2 separate regions of the Homo sapiens genome follow, and region 1 is linked to region 2. The links come from fine-mapping of genetic effects on gene expression. Tissue or cell type: prefrontal cortex. Region 2 holds a variant in brackets; the other region holds the start of a gene. All regions are shown on one strand. Distances are from middle to middle. Region 1 holds the start of DRC11 (dynein regulatory complex subunit 11). Region 2 has its middle 24 kb from the start of DRC11.

Evidence for each region. PIP is the estimated chance that this variant, and not a neighbour inherited with it, causes the effect. A credible set is the group of variants that fine-mapping cannot tell apart.
Region 1: DRC11 starts here. The variant in region 2 is the best candidate, but not a certain one, in a credible set for the expression of DRC11 in prefrontal cortex (CommonMind, PIP 0.84).

Annotation. Positions count from the first base shown.
Region 1 is chr2:236,505,275-236,509,670 of GRCh38, forward strand. It overlaps DRC11 (dynein regulatory complex subunit 11), which reads right to left and starts at 2,202. Exons shown (of 19, transcript NM_024726.5): 1 at 1,983-2,202. The coding sequence starts at 1,993. RefSeq lists a silencer at 2,328-2,377.
Region 2 is chr2:236,529,054-236,533,449 of GRCh38, forward strand. No RefSeq gene overlaps it. Among named protein-coding and RNA genes, the nearest start is that of DRC11, 24 kb to the left of the region's middle. The variant T/C (reference allele first, on the strand shown) is at 2,190.

The DNA of each region.
Region 1 (4,396 bases), 24 kb before region 2:
TCACTTGAATATATGCACTTCCGTGGGAACTCAAAATATTGCACAATGGGAATTCTTTTCAAGTTATTTTGCACAAGATAAAACCTTCTGAATCTTCCAATCTTAACTAGTTTGCTGTCTTCTTCCCCAAATACTCCCCCTGCCTTCTTGCTCTACGGAAGGCCTGTCTCTGCTCAGAAGCCCTCTCAGTAGAGGCTCCTGTTACCCCCAGAGCCCTCTGTCTCTGGCTGTGGGGCTGGGTCAAGGGGACCCCTTCTCTTCACTGCACCTCCAGACATTTGCCTTCCCTCCTCCCAACACTCCCAGGCTTTGAATCCCATTTCATCTGATGCTGTCACCACTGCCCCTCAGTCACCATCATCTTCCATCTACCATGATCGTTCCAGGCCACCTCCAGAGCACCCACCCACTGAATAGCATCTTGATGCTGCCTTCCTACCTGTTCCATTGTTAAGTGCTGAGTTCCTCTACCTAAGGCCAGCACCCCCTGGATCCCATGTCCTCTCACTACCAACGATGTCACCCACTTCTCCCTCCTCCTCCTATATCATTCTGGGCCATTCCCTTCCACACACAAACATTCTATTGTTTTCTGTCTTGGAGCCATGTCCTCTGCCTCTAGCTGCCAACATATTTCCTTTCCTCTGCAGCAAAACTCCTTTAAAGAGTTAGCTATGCTCACCATCTATAGTTTCTCTCCCCCTACATTCACTTGAGTAAGTCTTTCTATCTCATCATACCACTGAATCAGCTCCTGTCAAGGTCACTGGTGAACTCCACACTGCCAAATCAACAGTCAGTTCTCAGTTCTACCCCAACTTGTCTCAGGAGCACTTGATGGAGGAGAAAGAAGTTACTTCTCCTGGAAACACTATTATTTCTTCCACTCGCTTCTTCCTCATGGATCATGTCTTTGATTCCTTTGCCAGGTCTCCTCTTCCCCCAGCCTTACTGTGGATGATCCCAGGATCAGTCCTTACACCTCTTTATTAATATTCATTCTATGTCTCACAAAGACCATCACAGGCTGACAGTGAGCAAGTTTATATTTCAGACATGGGTCTCGCTCCTGAACCCAAGATCTGAATATTTTAATTGCCTATTTCATCTCCACGTGATGTCCAATGGGCACTTCCAACTCAATACGTCTTAAACAGAACTCTTGATCTTCCCCATTTCCAAACCCTGGCAAGCCTTTAACCTCTCTGCTCTTATTTCCTTGCCTAGAATACAGGGCACGTAATAGCAACAGTGCAGGCTGGAGCTACAGTGCCCGGCTTGGCACTGTTCACTTGCTGTGTGAACTACTTCACCTCTTCATCCCCAAGTTCCCTCATCTGTAAAATGGAAATAACAATATTAACAGCCCCTACGTTACAGGGTTGCTGTGAAGCGGTTAGAACAGTGTCTACAGGGTCAGCGCTGTAATACCTGTTGGAAATTATTCTTACGAAGACCAAATGAGGTAACTTTGTGCAAGTGCTGTGTAAACGACACAGTGCTAGGCACACACTTCTTTCAGTACCAATGCCACTCGAGTCTGTGAAAAGCAAATGTCAATAATGCTTTCCCAAGATCTTTCTAGACTTAAATTTCAGGACCTAGGTGTTTCCACAAAGCACCGTATTTGTTACCGTGAAAGATTAACAAAAAAAGCAGACAAAATGGCATAGTGCTTCTCAGCAATAGCCCCTAAGGGCTTGGCAGGTATACGGAAGACTGGGAGCTCATCCCCATGGGGTGGTGGGACGCGTAGGGGAGGGGGAGATCTAAGTGTATGATTTTCCTTGCTCACAAGAAGCAGATACTCTATCCCGAGGCATATTTGAATTTCCTAAAAGGAAAAAAAGTGGGGGAGAGGAGGGAAGTTGAGAGGGGAGGAGAAAAGAAAAGAAAAAAGAAAATAAGAGAAGCAGAAAGCAAGCCACCTTCTGGCTTGGGGAAGCCCACTCCATGGCTGTGGCTGGGAGCCCATCACTTACGCGTTCGACATTGCTGGCTACTTTCCCTCTTTTCCTCGCCCTCCGGGAAGCTCTTCCGTTGCTCTCTGAAGGACGGTGGCAGCAGGGGTCAGGGCACTACCAGGAGCTACAGAGGATTTGGGTGGGGGGTCTTCTGGAGGGAGAAACCAGGACTGCGAGAATCTTCTGCTTCGGGCAGGAAAAGGTGAGGCCGGGTTTGCTTCGCAGGCACGGAGCGCGCAGGCGCAGAGAGGTGTTTCACTCCTTCCCGTCGCGACCCAGAGACTCGCGAACCTCACTTCGGCCACTCAGGTGGGCGCGACGCGGCCCTAGCAACGGAAACGCCGCGCCTGCGCATTGCCTTCCGCCTGCCCCCTCCCCCCCCCCGCCCCCCGCATTCCGCGCCTGCGCCACCGCGGGAGGCCTGGGTGGGCGCAGCTGTGGGAGCCGGTCGGAGTCCGAGCGCTCCGTCGCGGGGCCCGGCCGCTTGGCGAGCCTGCTCCGGGCCCCAGCACTTAGCCTGTGGTCCTCCAGGCCGTCTTCCCGCTTTCCTGCTGGCCCCATTTTCATCCACTGTCAGCTCTGCGGCCTTGGGCAAGGCCCTTAATGATGGTGGTCTTCAGTTTTCCCATCTGTAAACTGGGTATAACAGTCGTTCGTTCAGAACTTTACTGGGCATCTATTCTGGGCCAAGTGCAGACTTAGATTCTGGGCACCCAAGACTTAGGCAGACGCGCCCTTCGGAGACTTAATGAGTATGAACTAAGGCGCGGGTGCGTTGTAAATGTAAAATGCAGTGTGGATGCTATTAACAGTTATCCGTAAGTCGCTATGAGTGTTGGCTTTCATTGCTCTTCTTTCTTCGACTTTAGTAACTGTTGAGGTTTATTTGCACATTTTAGACCCTGCAGCTCCTATTGGAACGCCAGGTTTAATGCTGTCAAAGGCGTGGAGAGGACATCCAGGTAAAAATTATAATCAGGATCACAAAACCTCTCCCCCACCATTACTAATGAAATGCGCAAAAGCATAGTAAAAGCCAGCCCTCCGCACCGCCTTCAAATAATGGAGCAAATTATTTCTCAGACGAGAAATTGAGTACAACCTTGTACCGTAAACTTCAAAAACTCAGTGAAATAGCAGCTTGCCGTGGAGAATGGTGTCCAGCCTCATCTCCACCCTCCCAAAGCCCTTCAGGGGGCAGAGACCAAGTAGACACAACACCAAGAATTCTCATTAATGCTTTTTGATGCAAAGAATACACACACTGAAAAGAAGGGGTATGAAAGGGTGAGCCGAACGAGGAAACACCTGGGGAAATCCGGCCAGATAAAACCATCCTGAGTGGAGGTCAATCCCTACCGCTCCCAGGACCTGAGCAGGGACAGGAGAAATCTCCAGGGCTTGCCTTTTTCTAGGTCCCTACATTGAATTGAGGCAAAGATTCAAAGTCAAAGGGCATGTTGTCACAGGAATAGGGCACACTCGTGACAAGAGTGGGAGGATGGTGGTAAAGGAGCTTATCAAAATCTCAGAAGAGAGCACAGAGCCTGGAAGTTGTGTGGATTCAAGGGAGCAGTCCTTATCCTAAATGTGTACTCAGGTTCCAGAAAAGCAGAGAAAAGTGCAGTATCTCAGCTCTGGAACTCAGATACAGTGAGAAGACAGTCAAAGAGAATTCGCCCACATTATATTTGAACAAACAGAACATTTTCAAAGAGCAACACGTGTTAAATAGGAATAAGACAGAAAGAAGCAGCATATCCACTGTCTAAAACCAAGACTTTCATAAAAGTAGAAGAAAAGAAAGGATTATAACATAGGCCAGACAAGTGAAAGAAAGTCTGGAGAAAATCTAACCAAATAAATAAAAGCAGAAAAATCTTTTTTGTTTGTTTGTTTTGAGATGGAGTCTCCCCCTGTCACCCAGGCTGGAGTGCAGTGTGTGATCTCGGCTCACGGCAACCTCCACCTCCCGGGTTCAAGCAATTCTCCTGCCTCAGCCTCCCACGTAGCTGGGATTACAGGCGCCTACCACCATGCTCAGCTAATTTTTTGTATTTTTAGTAGAGACAGGGTTTCACCATGTTAGTCAGGCTGGTCTGGAACTCCTGACCTCAGGAGATCTGCCCGCCTCGGCCTCCCAAAATTCTGGGATTACTGGCGTGAGCCATCGCGCCCTGCCAAAACAGAAAAATCTTTACTTGTGCTCCATGCTATAGAATAAGCTAATAAGAACATTAAGGTAATAAAATAAGAACTGGGAGAAAATATAAAACAATGGAATGAGAAAGGAAGGAAGATTACACAGCTAAGGAAACCAAAAGAAAAACAGAAGTAGTGCAATACAGAAAATAAGTTGGAAAAACCAAGAAATAGACCAGGCACAATTCAGCTGAATTACTGACTTAGAGGAAAAACCTGACTCAATTACA
Region 2 (4,396 bases):
TAATTGACTCACAGTTCTGTATGGCTGGGGAGGCCTCAGGAAACTTACAATCATGGCGGAAGGTGAAGGAGAAGCAGGCACCTTCTTCACAAGGTGGCAGGAGAGACAGAGCGCAGGGGAAACTGCCACTTTTAAACCATCAAATCTCATGAGAACTCACTATCATAACAGCATGTGGGGAAACTGCCCCGTGATCCATTTACCTCCCACCAGGTCCCTCCCTCAACACTGGGGGATTACAATTCGAGATGGGATTTGGGTGGGGAAACACAGCCAAACCATATCAGTAGCATTTTCTTGTTTATAAAGCACCTTTCATATCTATGTCTGTATCTATATATCTATATATCTATATCTATCTCTCCTTTAGACTTTATAGTAGTGAGGCAAGCTTTATTATTGTATAAACATGAAAACAAAGTCATATAACTTTCTCAAGGTCACACAGCTAGTGTAGCAGAGCCAGGACTGACCTCAAGACTTTTACAGTCTAGAACCTCTCAGAACAAGAGAGAATTTGAGAGAGCTTTGCAAAGTGCATTACCACTGGAATCACTTGGCAAAAGGAAAAGAAATCCATGCAACTAACTTACACAAAAAGAGGATATGTTAAGAAGACTCAAGGACATATTCAGAATCCAAGATCAGCTAGACCTCATAAGGGCCATTGTTCCAGAAAAACTGCCAGGAACAGAGAGAGCCAGCCTCCCCCGTGACCTCACTCTCTCTGTGGGTCTGCCGGCCCTGTCCTGCTTCCCAGCGCAGCACTGTTCAATCCTTCTCTCTCTGCTTTTTGTCAGATTTCAAATGCCAAACCCTGGGCCTCTCAATCCGTTGCTTTTCCTAGGTAGTAAACATGTACTTGGTAAAATACCATATATGTTCTAATATATTGTTCACTGAGGAAATACTCAAGGCTCTATGAAGGGGAAATAGTCACATGTCAAGTTTAAACTGCTAATCATTTCTAAACAAAGTGGAATTATTGTTTTATATGCTGTTTCATACCAAATTTCATATATATATTGACATCTATTATTTCTCAAAACTTTTTAGCTTTCATTTTTTGTAATAGCATCTTCTCAATGTAGGACTTCTATTATATAGAATAATTACTGATCATCAACACTGACTATTAAACCTACAAGTTAAACTTGGGTAGATCATGATTTTTTTTCTGTAAGAGAAGATATAATTAGTAAATAAAAACTGGGCTATAAATCAATAATGAAATTTTCTAGAAAGCTCCAAAATGTTCATCTAAGAAGACAGTGGAACAGACAGCAGTACCAGGAGGTCTGTCTCCCAGCTTTCTCTGTTGCGTGTACAAAGACATTTGAGTTCATTCAAAAAATGATGAATTTGATTTGCTTCAGGACTTCATAGGATGCTCTGCTGTTGTGCACAGCATAGAGATGGATCCATAGATGGCTCTCAGGATCTAAAGTCAGGCAGGCTTAGCACTCATAGCTTAACTAGGAAAAGGTTACATTAGAATGCCCAGAGAAAATATTCATATTACATCAGGAGCCACACAGATTGATAAGAAACACACGAAGTAGTCAGCATGTGAATAGGCAGATTATGAGTAAACATCTTCACAAGAATCAGTACAAATAAGTGAGAAAATGTTAACTCCCAGGAGTAATCAGAGGACATAACTGCCCTCTACTGCTCACCCCAAGGGAAATGATTTAGAATGTTATGACCTCTACTTACTTCTGAGAATTTCTCCCAAGAGAGAAAAAGTTTATCTGCACAAATTAATTTTCAGTAAAGAAGTGGCATTCAATATTAGGAGAACAGTGAAATAAATTGTAGTGTCAGCCCTAATACAGCCATGATACAGTTAATTTTGAAGATTACTGGCAACATGAACATATTTATATCAGATTTTCAAGCAACAGTAAAACAATCAGAAAGTCAGAGCTGAATAGGTTCTGAGACATGGTAACATCTCCAAATCTTCCACGTATGTAATTCAGAGAATAGACTGTGTAAAATTGGGTTTGCCTTTCTCTAGTTCTCTACACAGGTTCTGAATATGACACGGATCTGGGCATACTAGCTGAAAGAGACAATGGGAAGTTTTAGAAGAGAGACACAACTGTCAGAAAATCCAGGGAGAGCTGTGGTGGGTGTGGAATTACCTGACATTTGTATTCACCCGCGTATTCCCCACCAATATA[T/C]AAACTTTTTTAAAACCATAGAACCATGAAAAGAAAAGGCCTCGTTGCACAATTTGGTGCTCCCTTCATCTGTGGAGAGCAGGTGTCTGTGCCACAGCTCTGGTGGTCTAGGGAAGCATTCGCAGTAGACGAGCCAGCTGCCTCCCAGGCTGAGATCCTGGAGTCACCCTGTCAGCACGCTCAGACCCCATGTGGCTTCTTATGGTGCTGCCTCACTATCATGTCTTCCTTCTTTGGAGTTGAAAGCCTCTTCTTCCCATCTCCCCACTTTCCTAAACCCTCTGAAGTTACGTCCACACAACAGTCATGAATGGGATCCAAGGAGCTTAAGTACTACATATGAAAGGCTGGGAAACCTCAAGGCAAATACTGCCTTGATCACCTGGAAAATGGTCCTCTCTTTCACCATCACTCACAGGCCAGGTGCCCAAAGGCATTGCATCTGAGGTAAGCAGATGTCTGCAGCTGTGTGTTAGATACAGCTCCACAAAGGTAGACCCTGGGGTGAGGCCAGCCCTGTGAAGAGGGTCACACAGCAGGTGAGAGTGCCCGTGCATTTGGCCTGCTGGTCCACAAGCCAACCTCTGATTTCCTTTCGGGCATTAGTCCATGGTCCCTCCTTATTGGCAGCACATGGGAGTGGTGCCTGAACTGGGCTGCTGTATTTTATCACTTCTCTCTTTGCTGTTGAAGAACTGTGGGCCTTGAGTCCAATCTAGTAAATGTCCTCATTACACTCTCTCAGGCTGGGTTCCCAAAGTAGACTCTAAGGCAAGAAATTGAGTGCAAGTAGAGTATTTGGCAGACAATCCCAGAAAGCACTGCTATCAGGGTGGGAAAAATGTGACAGGACAGAAAAAGAAACCAACAAAGGGTGCAGGTTCAGGCAGGTTTCCACTGTGGCTTCTGGGGCTCCTTCCCACTGAGGAGTGATGATGAGACAGCCAGAGTTACTCCACCTGCAGAGCAAGGAAGCTGAAGTCTTTAACTTCCATCTGCCCCAGCACCGGCTGTGGCTGCTCCCTGTGGCACTACCTCTCAGAAAGCTCTCTGGTGGGAGTGGCAGGTGTCTGTCACAGCACACCAATGGGTGACTAGCAGGTGCCCCTGTGTTTGGGTGGCTTATTGAGCACCAGGGTAAGGCTGGAAGAAGAGGGTGTGGAAAACACTACAAGAGATTGGCAGAGGGCATGAATGGGCAAGTCATAAAAGAAATGCAAATTAAATTTTAAAAATTGTTTTGGATCTATAAATTGCAATGACTGGAAATAATGATAACACCCAGGAGTCAGTGAGTTATCTGGAGACCCACTCAGTTATATGCTGTGGTCAGATTATAAACTGGAATAAAGTTTGAAAGGCATTTTGGCAACACATACTTAGGAATGATTCTCATTAACAAAAGTAATCTGGGCATATCTCTTCCTGTCAACCTTAAATAGTCTGATACAGCTTAGAGAAGATATGGTGTGCTCTGTACCTATGGCGGTAGAGTCATTACAAATAATCAGGGACTGATAATTATCCTCTACTTAATAGTTCTTCCATGTCCCCCATCAACTCTTGCTAACTTTTCTTTCTTATAACTTCATCACCTGAAATTGTGTCATATATATTTTTGATCTGTTTACTGCCTAATTCCTTTTGGTAATGTAAGTTCTGTGATGGTAGGGACTGGTCTTAATTATGATCACCTAGATTTGTGCCTAGATAGTACTCAATGTGTATCTGGTAAGCAAATGCAGGGTTGCATAAATGGATGGATAAATGGATAAGTGGATGGGTGAGTGGATGGATGAGTAAGTGGGTGGATGAGTGGACGAATGGATAGATGAGTGGACAGATGGATGAGCACATCTTTGCTGATTATTCTTTAAAGGTGAAGAGGAGATGGTGGGTAGGTTGAGGTCTGGTTTTGCCTAAGTGAAGTGAAGCCATTGATAGGTTTGAGGCATGAACACCGCTTACCCCATCTAGTGCCAGTCTTACCTGAGGATGACTTGATTAGGAACCCATATGACACGTTGTACATCTATAAACTGATCAGACAACTCCTTTTGTGTGACCCCCAAACACTCATCCACAAAAATGTCCCATTTCCATTAGAAGAAATATCATGGTTCTCAGTCAGCTGCTTCTGCTGAGACCCCCACCTCCAGAAGATCTGGTAGAGGAAGCCCAAAGGCTCTTTCCATCGGAAGCATTTG